Regions from separate parts of the Homo sapiens genome. Here region 1 is linked to region 2. The links come from fine-mapping of genetic effects on gene expression. Tissue or cell type: whole blood. Region 2 holds a variant in brackets; the other region holds the start of a gene. All regions are shown on one strand. Distances are from middle to middle.

What was found. PIP is the estimated chance that this variant, and not a neighbour inherited with it, causes the effect.
Region 1: it holds the start of TPM1, and the variant in region 2 is fine-mapped to the expression of TPM1 in whole blood (INTERVAL, PIP 0.95).

The regions. Positions count from the first base shown.
Region 1 is chr15:63,041,205-63,043,821 of GRCh38, forward strand. It overlaps TPM1 (tropomyosin 1), which reads left to right and starts at 1,543. Exons shown (of 10, transcript NM_001018005.2): 1 at 1,543-1,739. The coding sequence starts at 1,626. RefSeq lists enhancers at 487-1,401, 2,315-2,617.
Region 2 is chr15:63,076,148-63,078,904 of GRCh38, forward strand. No RefSeq gene overlaps it. Among named protein-coding and RNA genes, the nearest start is that of TPM1-AS, 28 kb to the left of the region's middle. RefSeq lists an enhancer at 2,603-2,757. The variant G/A (reference allele first, on the strand shown) is at 1,332.

The DNA of each region.
Region 1 (2,617 bases), 35 kb before region 2:
CAGATCTAATGTTCTGACCATTAGGTCAGTGTATCTTTTCCCTCCTGGGCAGTTAGGTTAGTGGAAGAAACCCGATAAAATCTTGGAGAGGAATTTGATCATTCTCTGAAGGACTTACAAGTTGTTTGGCCTGCCTAATCTGCTCAGATACCGTCCGGGGAATATTTGGTAACCATGCAGTACAGACTGTGAATTATTCTGTGGGGACTATTAACAAGACCCTCACCAACCCTGCCTCAGCTGATCTCAGGGCTTGGGGGCAGCCCCCTCTCCTCCCCTCCCACTGAAGCTCTGAAAAAAAGCAGCCTTTCCCCCTTGGGAGATGGGAGGAGTAGTTAAAAATAAGAAGTGTTGGGGGAAATCCTCCTCCTTCCAAGCACAGCTCACACGGCAGAGCCTCCTCAGAGTTGCGGCTGCGGATGCAATGACTTAGCCAGGTTAACGCCGATCCCATGTTTTCCGAAACCTGGCACCTAAGCATCTAACATGGAAGGCCGACTCCCTAAAATCAGTGCAAGAAAAATGATAACAAGTTATATCTGGAGGGACCTCGGGGATTATCTACCCGCTGGATTTAAAGTTGAGGAAGCCGCGGGCAGCAAACAAGGTCTCACAGTTGCTGGTGGCAGAGTAGAGACCACAGACCAAATTGCCTGAGTCTAAACTCAATGTTCTTTCCCCTTAGACTGCCACCCGCACACACACGCACACATGCACACCTTTTTGGAGGCACTGCACAGCAAGCACAGAAGTACGCCACTGAGTCCTGTGTCCCTAAAGTATTTGACTGTCCCTCCGCTGGGGGAAAGGGCAGGCAGAAAACAAGACTCCGTGTGCTGTCGCTGTGCCGCCCCCTGCCTCTCTGACCCGCGCCCGCAGAGAAAGTCTCAAGAGCCGCCCCAGGCTTTCTCCCACGTTCTCCCTTTCTCTGCTGCAGTTGAGTTTCCAGAGCGTGAGCGCGCAGGATGACACCTGGCTGGCTGAGAGCTGCCGGGGAGGCGCTGGCGGGTGCCGAGAGCGCACTGACCCTGACGCGGGGTGCAGCACGGCTGGGAAGCCCCCGGGCCTTTGGCTAAGCGCGCCGGGGGACGGCACAGGGGGGCGACGCGCATCCACCACCTGGTCCGCGCTCTCCCGGCCTCCGGCAGCTCAGGGCGGGCTCGGTTGGGGACCCTAATGGCTGGGTGCCGGCCCTGGGAGAAGGGCACGCGGAGGGCGGAGGGTTGCGCCTCGGCCCCGGCTCGGCCCCAACGCCCTCTCCCTGGCGCGCAGGTTTAGAAACAGGGCGGCCTCTCCGGCCGCCGCCTCGGCGGCTCGGGTCCCCATATATAGTCATATCCACCGTCAACTGGGAGGCCGGCGGCCGGCAGCGAATGGGCGAGCGGCCCCCGCGGGAGGAGCGGGGAGGGGGCACGGGGCGGAGGGAGGAGAGGAGGAAGGGGGGCAGGAGAAAAAAGCTTTTCCAAAAAAGTATTGGCTGTCTTGAGGAATGCGGTCGCCCCCTTGGGAAAGTACATATCTGGGAGAAGCAGGCGGCTCCGCGCTCGCACTCCCGCTCCTCCGCCCGACCGCGCGCTCGCCCCGCCGCTCCTGCTGCAGCCCCAGGGCCCCTCGCCGCCGCCACCATGGACGCCATCAAGAAGAAGATGCAGATGCTGAAGCTCGACAAGGAGAACGCCTTGGATCGAGCTGAGCAGGCGGAGGCCGACAAGAAGGCGGCGGAAGACAGGAGCAAGCAGGTCTGCGCCTCCCCGGCCCTGCGCCCGCGCCCAGAGCGCCGGGACTCGAGCCTGGCACCCCCGGCTGGATCCCCACCCCGAGGACTCGGGGAGCCACCACCCTACCCCCACCACCACCCAGGGCGGCCAGGGCGCGCGTCTGGAAAGAAGGAAGGGAAACGCAAGAGCCAGGCTTAGTCTAACTTAGTCTGGTCTGAGGACGCTTATTTCCCTTCTCTGGTTCCCATGGCCCGCGAAATCAAGTCCTAGAGGCGCTTTATTCTCAGGACTGGGAATCAGTTTGGGGGAGGGAGGAGGACACCCGGTTCCTGGGGACGTTTGAAGGAAGGGCGAGGGATGGAGAAAGGGGGTCGAGTAACTCAAGTGTTAGAAGTTCGTTGACTTTTGACTGGGGAGAAAGGAACCTTAAACTTGGGGAGGAGAAGGGAGTCCTGGAGTTGTTACCTAAGAACAAAGATGGGGCGGAATGGAGGCTACAGCCCGAAAGCCAGGCCAGCAGTGGCGTTCTTCTGTGTCCCCAAGTAGTGGACTTGAGCCCGCTGAGACCTCGGCAGGAGTCTCGTCCCAGGGCAGGTGGGTGTGCGGGGTGAGCCGCGGAGCGGTTCCAGCTCGGGTAAAGAGGAAGTTACCTCGGGTCCTTTGCACTCCAACTCGGCGGCGCCCCGAGCCCGAGGGGCCCCAGCCAACCCGACGCCCGTGTGTTGTGTGTGTCTAACACCCGGTCCGTGCCGGCCGCCCGCGCCCGCCCGCCGCTGCCCCCAGCTCGAGGAGGACATCGCGGCCAAGGAGAAGTTGCTGCGGGTGTCGGAGGACGAGCGGGACCGGGTGCTGGAGGAGCTGCACAAGGCGGAGGACAGCCTCCTGGCCGCCGAAGAGGC
Region 2 (2,757 bases):
ACCGGGAAGGTGAAAGATGCTTTGTCTGTGGCAGGGAAGCAGTTGTTGTGTCTCCGGAGGGGCCGGCTGGGCACAGGGGGGCCGGAGGAGCAGAAGAGTTGGCTCCTCTTGGCGGATGCTGCATGGGGATGGGGTCAGAGGGGACAGCACACATCATGATGGTAAGTCCTGGTCTGTTTTCAACTCCAGAGACACTCAGAAAGGATTTGGAATGCTGCCTTTCCAGTGGGACTCTTGGTTAGACTCATGACTCCAGTGTTAAACTCCCAGATGCCTGCACTGGTATAATATAGCCCTTCGGCCTTCTGGTGAGCTGGGATTCGATGGGCTGCCCACATCCTGCACCTCCACTCCCCCACCTCACCCCAAAGTCCACTTCCTCTATGAAAACCACCCTTCACAATGAAACACTTGCCAAGGAACTGCTTGAATCGTGCTGTGGTCAAGGACGCCTTTATCTGAAGTGAGCCCCATCACTATTCCCAAAAGGATTAAGTATAGTTGCCCAAAGCCCAGTGATGTAAATATTAGAAATGGGAACCCACACCCAGGCAGTAGGGGCTTTTGTTTTTGAAGGGGATGCTGGCTTCCTAGGAATGGCCAAAGCATACCTGCATCTCAGAAGCCTGAGCCAGCGGGAAGTGATTAACCCCTGGGTTACTCAGCTCGAAGCCTGTCATTCCCATGATTTGTTTTCCTGCTATCTTCACACAAAGCACTCCTTTCCAGAACACTCCGGGACTGTCTGCCTAGCACCTTCCGGAGAAATTAAAAAGAGCAAAGGCAGAATAATTTGCCTAAGAATAGGAATGTCAAGAAAATGTGCCTCAACAAAGAGTTGCTAGGCTCAAATCCTGGCCAAACTGTTCATCTCTCTTCAGTTGTTAACCCTCTACTTGAAAACTTCCTATCCGCCATGCCTCCTTTTTCTGGCTTTCGTTCTTCCCTTCTGGCTACAATTTTTTGTTACTCTAATCTCTTGTTCTGCTCACTTTCTCTCAGACACAGAGCTTCCATATTGTCTTCTAGTAACTAAAATTATGAAAGTTAAGATTCATAATTTTGCCTACAAGACAAATTGTATTTCCATTTAAGAATGTTTTACAGTATTTTGGGGACTGTATTTTGGGCTCAGATGGGCCGGAGGAGTAGAAGAGTCAGCTCCTCTTGGCAGATGCTCTGTGGGGCTGGGGGCTGAGAAGCCAGCAAACATCATGATGGCAAATCCTGGTCTGTTTTCAAGGTTGGGGGTTATAGGACAATACAGACAAAGTATAATAGACGTCTTGCCCTCAAGGAGTCTATGGAAGCAACTGAATATGTGCACAAAC[G/A]CACTAAAAAATAATAAAACAGGATATGATTACATGGCAAATAGACAGTAAATGATACAAGACTGCATGGAAACAGATGTCATGCCCCCTTCCTGGTAGATTTCTAACCATCTAAAACCAGTAGAAAAGGCTCTCCTGGGCATGCTCTATAATTTTCTCAGGGGTACTCCAGCCACAGGCAAATCACCACTCACCCCGGCCTCTCAAATCTTAGAAACAAGAGCTCTGCTAGTTTAAAAATGCTTTGGTTTTACTACTTACTCTGGCTACGAAATTTTTTGTTCATAATTGTAGCTTTTTTCTACCAAATTCTCATTTTAAAATCCTCCCCTCTTACCCACCTCTCATTCCTTGCTGTAGGCCATGTAGTTGTGTTCTGTTTGTTTGTTTGTTTGTTTGTTTGTTTTTAAACTTTTGGTCTTACCATACCTTTGCTTTAATCCTAGAGCATCTGTTAAGCTTTAAAGGAAAGAGCATAAATGAATGCACACATATACTCTTAGAGCCTATAAAATCAGCTTCCTACTCCACCAGGGAGGTCTGAAGGAGCCTTTGGTTTCTGGTAAAGCAAATGGATGAGGATCGCCGCTAACATTCACTTCTCCCACGAGAAGCCTCCCCAGGCTGATTGCTATAGTCGCTAGTGCAGACAGCGACCTGATCTGCTCAGGCTGCCAGACTTCAGAAGCCTCAGCCAGGTTCAGAGCCTCCCTAATCCTAATGGGCTAGGAGCCCTGGGTGTCTCCAGATAACCCATTTTCCAGCCTTCCAAGAAAGAGGAGTAGTGGGGCAGTGGGCGAGAGAGAATTGGGTTTCAGTGCTGTTTTAATGTAAACTGCTGGGGGCTGGGAGCTCCCCTTTTGCTCTCCTTGTTTTGGTTCCTACCCCAGAAACATAAAGTATTACTGATAAACATGGATAATTAAATTTGGATAAAAACTACTTGAACCTGAAGAGTTCATTCCAATTTGTATAACAGCAATTGATGTGGGTTGTGTATTTAAAGGAATATTTAAATTTCATGCAGCAATTTGCAAGTTCAAATGAAAAGCTATTTGGCACATTTGGATACTGGGTTGCAAGGGAAATAAGCAAAATGTACACATGAGGTACATGCCATCATATAATTGTGTACATTTTTTATTTGTCACAAAGCATTATAAAAACAATAGAGAAAAACTATGAAGGAAAAAAAAGGTCACCACTGGGAAAAAAAAAAACTTATTTTCCATATGTTTTGCCTGTGTGTTTATGGAAGGCTTTTTATTCAAAATTTTGGTTTTTATTCAAAAAACTTTGCATAAACATCTTCCTGTGTTGCTTCACCTAGTCTTCTGGTTAATGTGCCATAATTTGTTCTCCTCTTTTTGATCACTGGGTTTTTCTAATTTTTTGTTCTCACAACTAGGACTGATGGGAGATTTTT